Linked DNA regions of Homo sapiens. The protein of the gene in region 2 purifies or fractionates together with the protein of the main gene of each other region. This does not show direct contact. Each region holds a gene or a part of one and is shown on either strand. Other genes may lie near its edges.

Evidence for each region.
Region 1: the proteins of CYP8B1 (region 2) and PTP4A2 purify together in Homo sapiens (affinity purification with mass spectrometry; one large-scale study listed by BioGRID and IntAct). This does not show direct contact.

What each region holds. Positions count from the first base shown.
Region 1 is NC_000001.11:31,910,853-31,914,665, forward strand, and holds part of PTP4A2 (protein tyrosine phosphatase type IVA 2), read right to left. Parts: intron 975-3,813; coding exon 844-974; intron 1-843.
Region 2 is NC_000003.12:42,873,042-42,877,607, forward strand, and holds the start of CYP8B1 (7-alpha-hydroxycholest-4-en-3-one 12-alpha-hydroxylase), read right to left. Parts: upstream 2,839-4,566; 5' UTR 2,776-2,838; coding exon 1,270-2,775; 3' UTR 1-1,269. UniProt on the Homo sapiens protein: A cytochrome P450 monooxygenase involved in primary bile acid biosynthesis. Catalyzes the 12alpha-hydroxylation of 7alpha-hydroxy-4-cholesten-3-one, an intermediate metabolite in cholic acid biosynthesis.

The DNA.
Region 1 (3,813 bases), on a different chromosome or scaffold from region 2:
TTTTGATGAGCTAGGAAAATGCCCAAGAATTGATGACTAGAAGAAGTTCTATCTTTTTAAAAAAATTTAACAAAGGAAATGATGTTTTTATAAAGCCCATTACAGGGCACCAATTTTGGGCTACCTAAAACTAGGATAGCTACTAGTTATAAAACTGCCAACTCACGTTACAACATTATCTTCAACCTTCAGGATAAGGACTAAAACTTCTAACCTTATGAACAAACAGTACCACACTACAAAAAAGGAAATAGCAAACAAAAGGGCAGAGCAGAACTAACAGCTTGAGTAATCACCACCTTGAGGCAATGGCAGCCTACACTAATGTTTTGAGTCAAAGTGTGCATCCTAAATTGGCATTTAATCTGCTGCTGATGACAGCGTTGCAACACCATTCTAAGCAATGCTCAGGGGAAAAGGTTTTAAGATCAAAGTCAATTCTTGTCCATACATCTTCTTTCAAGAGTTTAAAGTTCAGATATCTGCTATCTATTAACTTCCCATTCATCTCAGTCCAAAATTAACCATGTATAGATTCATCAAACTCTAAAATTATTTTAATTTTGTTGCCAATTTCAGTGACCTGAACTTTTGATTACTTGAAATAGGGAGAAAAATAAAACACCCACAATCCAGGCTGGCATCAGAATCAGACAACCAGATGAAATGAACAGGCTCTTTTGAGAAATCATTACACTAGTTTTTCCTCTCATTTCCTTTCCTTTCAGGTAATTTAATGTTATTTAGTATAATATATGCAAATGTCTACCAAAGTGAAACTTTCAACTAACTTAGGCATGGTAATGAATTCAGACAAAAAGGGTAATAAAGGTAAGAGTTTACCTTCCCAATCCTGCAACACAATGCACTGCAACACAGCAACCTGGCTCTTCACGAAATTTGGTTTTTAACAGGTTTAACCAATCATCTACTATCTGATTAGGGGGTGGAGCTCCATCATCAAATGGCCAATCCTGAAAAGAAATGACCTTTTACATTAAATTGATATTTTCTCCATGATTAACATCCTAATACAGAATACCTGCACACAGTACACACGGCAGGCCTAACTGAACTAACTGCACTATATATACCTATTGTTAACACAATTCTGATCATTGCTGTAAAATGATCCAGGATTGAAATTAAAGTTTGCCAAATAAATTACCCTTCTCAATGCAGTGTCGCACACATCTGAATTTACAAAAACTTACAGAAATCTCTATCAGAGTCATAAGAGCTAGTGTTCTCCCAAAAATGATATCTGAATAGAGTAGTAATTAGACATAATAGACAAAACTGTAATTAAAGCCAAGACAAAGTAACAGAGGACACAGCACATGTCAACATGATTTAAAAGTCCACTCTGGCAAAGCATACCAACTGGTGTCTCATTGGTCTCTACAGATAATTGAAGATTATAATTCAAGATAACTAAGTTATGACATCTTTAGAGAAAGGTTATCTGATAAGAAATCTCCAATAGTTAGTAAATCATAACAGAAACAAACTACCATCTTTGTGCTTATTAAAAGGCAAGCAGTGAGTATTTTTAAAGTGCTTACTAAATTATATATGTCCCCATTTAACAAGGACAGGGCTGCATGACAGGGTCCTGGGCAAATGGAGACCATTTTGTCAAGTATCCCTTTCTCTTTCTGTATTCACCTATTTGGGCTATCTTTCAATTAAGACTAATCCCACGAGCATTCACAGTATAGGCAGGGGTTTATCTTCCTCACTACTTAGCAAGAGGTCCTAAGAAACCAACACAAATGGGGAGTGGAGGAGGGGGACTGGGGGCTGACATTTTACAAGCCTTCCCTCCTGCCATCTAAGCTTCAAAGATAGAAATGCAAAAACACTGTTAGGAATTTTTTTAAAAACATAAGGCTATTCTAATGAGATTGGATAAGGACACTTTAAGATATTAGGGGAGGAAAAAGAGAAAAGTGACAGAGCATTAAATTGATTCTGCATTCATTATTGGCACCACTAGAACACTTCATGTAGCCCATTAGCCAAAACAGTACATGATTGAGTTGACAACTACGCCCCATAATTAAAGGACTGTGTTATTATAAATGTCACTAGAGAGTTTAACTGTAAATAGCAATAAAACCAGTACCTTAGTCAAGAGCTTACTTCCTCTAATACTCCCTAAAATGCACCTAGTTAAGAAACAATATAAAACATGCTTCACTTACTCATATAAGTAGTGTCTATTTTTAAAAAAATCATTAATCATTTAGAAACATCTGAACCTCAAATTGATACAGCTAAAACCACCATTAGTCTATTCCAATGTGTGTCTGGTTTGCAAGAGCATTCAGAGGACTGACAGGCCTTATTTGGGGATATCCTCTTACCATGAAATGTTCCAAAACCCTCCTCACCTAGCAAAATTAGATTAACTCTTAAAATCTCTGTCTGGGAAAAGGAAATTCCAAGCTTAAGGCTAAATGCCCTTGTTTTTTCAAGTGTAAGTTAAACCTTTCATTTTATCTGATCATAGCTATTTATTTATTTGTTTGTTTGTTTGTTTTTAATGACTTATTTTCCTCTGGGTAGATACCCAGTAATGGGATTGCTGGATCAAATGATAGTTCTACTTTTAGTTCTTTAAGGAATCTCCACGCTGTTTTCTATAGTGGTTGTACTAGTTTACATTCCCACCAGCAGTGTACAAGTGTTCCCTTTTCACCACATCCCTGACAACATCTATTTTTTTTTTTAATTTTTTGATTACGGCCATTCTTACAGGAGTAAGGTGGTATCATATTGTGCTTTTGATTTGCATTTCCCAGATCACAGCTATTTAAAACAAAACAAAAACCTAAATTTAAAGGCCTGGAATAAATCTTAGGCCTACCATTATCTTCCTCAAACTAGTTCAAGTTCTTTAGTTCATTTCTATTTCACAAAGATGTTTACCAACATTACTGACTCAAACAGACTATGGTCAATCCAGTCATTTTCTCACTCTGCCATCTGTCAAAACAAGTTGATTTTTGCTCACTAGAGAACATATTCATAATGCAGCAAAATAAACTTGTATGCAGCTTATTTTCGGAAGTTTAAATTTTATTACTACTTTTTAAACACAGGGCTGCATTTGACATGTTTACACTCATTCCCAGTGATTTCCAGCAGTGGACAGTAAAGTCATTTAGAAATTTGACTGCAAGCAAATTATTACCATGCCAAACTATTAAAACACATTATTGACTGATTGACTGACAAGGTCTCTGTCACCCAAGCTGGAGCACAGCAGCACAATCATGGCTCACTGCAGCCTTGACCTCTCGGGTTCAGGTGATCCTCCCACCTCAACCTCCCAAGTAGCTAGGACTATAGGTGCATGCCATCACGTCCAGCTAATTTTTGTATTTTTCGGAGAGACAGGGTTTCACCATGTTGCCCCACTAGTCTTGGAACTCCTGGACTCAAGTGATCCACCTACCTTGGCCTCCCAGAGTGGTGGGAACAGGCATGAGCCACCACACAGGGCCCTAAAACACATTTTTTTAAAACACATTTGGCTATTTAGTTTTTATTTTCACCAAAATGGACATGAGGAAACTATGGATCAGATATAAGAGGACTGCCTTACCAATAGGTCATTATTCTTTTTGCATCAACTGCCTTCCCAACCACTGACCAATATAATAAAGACTACAGAACTACCTCTCAATAAGAAGCAGGAACATAACCTTAAACCAGTATCTTCCTTGTTACGTTCTTCCTAACTACTTATAAAATCTCCAGTTCTCTTCCTACTACATAACCTTCCCACAATCAAACCAACAGCTC
Region 2 (4,566 bases):
TGGGGGAGACATGGGCACTGAGGAGGGATCTTGAATGATTCCTACATTAAAGACATCCTGACTGGGCACAGTGGCTCATGCCTGTAATCCCAGAACTTTGGGAGGCCGAGGAGGCCGGCCAAAATGGTGAAACGCCGTCTCTACTAAAAATACAGAAACTAGCCGGGTGTGGTGGTGCGCACCTATAATCCCAGCTACTCAGAAGCCTGAGGCAGGAGAATTACTTGAACCCGGGAGGCAGAGGTTGTAGTGAGCCAAGATCACACCACTGCACTGCAGCCTGGGCAACAGAGTGAGACTCTGTCTCAAAAAAAAAAAAAGGTATCATTTCTCTAGACCTGTGCTATCCAATAGGGCAGCCACCTGCCACACACGGCAATTAAGCACTTGGAATGTGGCTAGTCTGAACTGGGAAGAACTGCAAAAGTACAGTACATACCAGACTTTGAAGACAGGATGAAAAAGGGAAGGTAAAAACTATTACGTTAAAATTTTTAATAGTGATCACGTTGAAATGCCAATATTTTGGATATATTGGATTAAGTAAAGTATATTATAAAAATGAATTGTTTCATTTTACTTTTTAAAAATGTGTTTACCAGGAAACTAAATTAGCTGGGCAAGGTGGTAGGTGCCTGTAATCCCAGCTACTGGGGAGGCTGAGGCAGGAGAATTGCTTAAACCCAGGAGGCAGAGGTTGCAGTGAGCAGAGATCGCACCGCTGCACTGCAGCCTCGGCGACAGAGCAAGACTCTGTCTCAAAACAAACAAACAAAACCAAAAAACCCCACTACTCATGTAGCTTGCTTCATATTTATGTTGGATGACACTGTTCTAGAACCTGAATTCCATAGGATGTGGGATAAGTGTTGCTGAAAAAACTAAAGCAAGCTGGGAGAGTGGAGGCTGATGTTTGCAAGATGCCATGTTACTCGTGTCTGGGGGGAACCAGTCTCTGTACTCAGGACTTCTCAAGGCAGGCATCATCTCCCAAACCAAGTTGCCCACAGATACTCCCCCTTCCTCTGGACTTCCTGTGAGAGGAGGGTTCGGCAGAACCCACTCTGAGAGATGGTATTTTAAAGAGAATGATAAGCCTGTCAGATGACTAGGCGGGGAGAGAGCGAGGACAGGCAGAACAGAGGTAGGGGGTGCCACAGGACCAGAGGGAGGGGTGGCCAGTGGGGTCTTGGGGCTGCAGAGGGGTGAGAACAGGTGAGAGATGCAATAGAACTCCTCTGGCCAGGTTTGCAGCTGGCTTGGCCAAGCTCACTCTGTAGGATGCAGGCGGTAGCGGAAGCGCACATCGTGGCTGGGCTGCATGGTGCCAAAACCCCAGCGCTGCGGGTCAACATGGGGTAGTGGTGTGTCAGGGTCCACCAACTCTAAGTCAAAGTGTGTGACCATAAGCAGGATAAAGAGCTTCACCTCACTGAGTGCAAAGAACCTCCCAGGGCAGATGGAAACGCCCGAACCCCAGGGCATGGTGTAGTGGTGGATCTTCTTGCCTGTCTTGAAGAAGTCCACTTTCCGGCTGCCATTAGGGTTGAGGAAGCGATCGTACTTGAAGACGGTGGGCTCAGGGTGGATGTCAGGGTCCATGTGCACTGAGAGGTAGGGAAAGAGGGCCAGGATGTCTCCATGGCGGAACAGATACTCCTGCCCACTGGACATCTTCAGGGTATAGTCTTCATGAACCAACCTGAGGAGGGTGGGTGCAGCCCTCAGCCGCAGCGTCTCCTCCACCACGCTGTCTAGAACTGGGGTGTGTTGCAGGGCACCGAGTTTGAAGGCAAAGGACTGCTTGGTCTCCAGCCTGGCCTCACCCAGGACCTGGGTAGCTTCCTCCCTCACAGCCCGAATAGCTTCTGGGTGCTTCAGGAGGTACAAGAGGGCCCAGAAAGAGGTAGGCCCCGTGTTCCCCTGGGAGGCCCAGAGCATCATGAAGTTGAACTTGTCCTGCATAGCTGAGGGTACCCCCTGCTCCCTCAGAAACTGAAGCATGTTGCCCAGCCAGTTGCTGATGCCCTCCTTCTCCTGGCTGTGGCTCACGGAGAGCATCTTGTGAAAGAGACGCTGGAGTCGGCCCACTTCTAGCCACTCCCGGGGCCACAGCAGGGAGTAGACAAACCTTGGGAAAAGAAGGTCAAACTTGCGGAACTCCATGAATAACTCTCCTGCCTGTAGCAGGTCCTGCTCCTTGTCCTTCGTGTAGCCGAACAAGCTCAGGTAGCCAGCTGTGAACAAGATGTAATAGCAGAAGCGAAAGAGGCTGTCCTCATGCCAGCAACTGGCATCCAGACTCCAGCCTTTGGACGTCAGCATTACAAAGGACAGGCTGTCCAGCATGGTCTCATTAAGATCCTTCAAGCCATCCCCCCTCAGATGCTTGGTGCTGGCTGAGTGTATCATCTCATGGTCCCCTTGCACTGAACGGTATCCAAATACCTTCAGCACCAGTTTTTTTGCATATTGCCCAAAGTCTAGTTTTCTCTGTGTGTCCTTGAGGATGGAGCCAAAGGAGAGGGGGTCCATGACGAAGGTGAAGTACTGGCCCCCTAGCTGCACTGTGAACACATCCCCATGCTTGGTCCTCATGCGCTTCAGAAATTCAAACATATTCTTCCGGAAAGCCATGGCATGGCCAAGCCAGGGCACGGTACCCTTGTCCAGAGGGGGCTCCCATGGCCTGCGTTGTCGGAGCATCCCTGGCAGGCACAGGTATCCAGCAATGACCACCAGCAGAGCTCCCAGCACTGGACCCCAGAGAACCATGGCTATGCTCCTGCGGATTAAGCTCTCGACACGCACACTGTTCCCTGGGTGCCAGAGAGCTTTGGGAGGCCTTGGAAAGTCCAGGATGTAAAGGTCTGAGCACCTGGACCTTGCCCTGTGGCCGCAAGTTATGGCAAATAACACTAGTGAGACAGTACTTGGAAGCAGCAAAATGTTCCCCTGGACTTAACACTTGGCTGACTGGTCACGTAGGGGAGGAGGAGGTAACCAGGAGAAAGCTCAGAGAGAAGCTTCCAGCTATGGTCACAGCTGCTCACCAGCTTCATGCTTTGCTCTGACCTTTTCAGACAGCTCTTGCACCTTCTCTCTAAGCCTGCCTTGAGCCCACTCCCACCCCCATAGCTGACAGACTATTTATACCCCCATTTACTCATGCTTTTATTTATTTGCCAGTTCAGTTGGTAGAAATGAATCAAGCACTTACAAAATCTCACTTCCACTCTTTCCTCATCTTTAGAAGACTCAACAAATGCCTCCATTCCTACTTGGCCCCCTTGGTCAAGTAAGTTAACCTCACTGTGGCTCCACTCCCTCATCTGTGAAGTAGGGATAATTACAGTGCCTTGTAGGTGCTGTTGTGAGGCAAAAAGAGATAACACCTGAAAAGCACTTAGAATAGTGCCTGGCTCATGCTAGTGCTCCATATATGTTAGTTAGTATCCTAAAGCCTTTTCTCTTACCTTTGCCTGCTCCCCTGGACCTCACAGCAGCCCGTGCTTATCTCCTCATTCTTTCCCTAGTCTGTCTTCCTCTCTGGTCTCAAAGATGCTTGCCAAGGGGGCATGACCTTGTTGAAGTCATGTCTGCTCCTACCTCCATGTGCACAGAGTACACAGTCAAAGGCAAGTGAAGAATGACTGTATGCCCTTCCACAACAGCTCTGACCCCTAACCCAAAAAAAGAGGCATTGATGCTGGGGCTTTAGATGCTGAGAAGGCTGAGATGGTGGAGGGGGTGTTGACTCCATCTTGGGGTATGAGTGTGAATGAACTCATCTGAGGAGGCCACAGAGCCTCCCAGATGATGACTCTTCAAGCAGAGGCTGAGCCCTCAGTCTCTGAGCCTCTCACCCGGAGCCCTCTCACCTGCCCAACTGCTTGCCTATACACTTCTCTGACAAGAAGGCAGAATCCTGGAATTGTAAAATGTCAGAGACAATAGAGACCTCACTCAATCACTTCATACTTCATTTCACAATGAGGATCTAGGTGCAGAACGCAGTGGGGACCCTCTTTGACAGCTGCCCTGGCTTGGGGCCTTGAGATAAGCTAATCATTGACTAAGGGCCTTCTGAGACATGTCAGCCCAGGTCCCTGCCAGCAGCTCAAGAGGGAGAAAACTGTACCATTGACGCCAAGGCATTAGTCAAGCAGCCTGGCCCATTGTTGCTATAGGTGAGGTTCAAACTCAATTCAATCAGTTCTGATAACCTCCAAATTACTTTTTAACTTCCTAACGACCTGAGAACAGGGACTTCGGCTCTTCAGACAAAAGAGGGTATGGAACTTCCATATCCCCTCTGGAGTGAGCTTCCTTTGCCTATGAGCTTCCCCTTGGCAGGGAGTTGGAACTGTCCACACTCTGCTTCCCAGAATCCCTCTTTAATTGTTCAGGACCACCACAGTACTTGGCATCATCAACTCTCCTCAACCTTAGAATTCGGTCTGAAACTGGGCCAAATCCAATGAACTGAACCGTGTCCCCTAGTTTTTAATGGATGAACCATTATTTCACATTCATTCTTACCTCATTCATTAACCCACACTCATC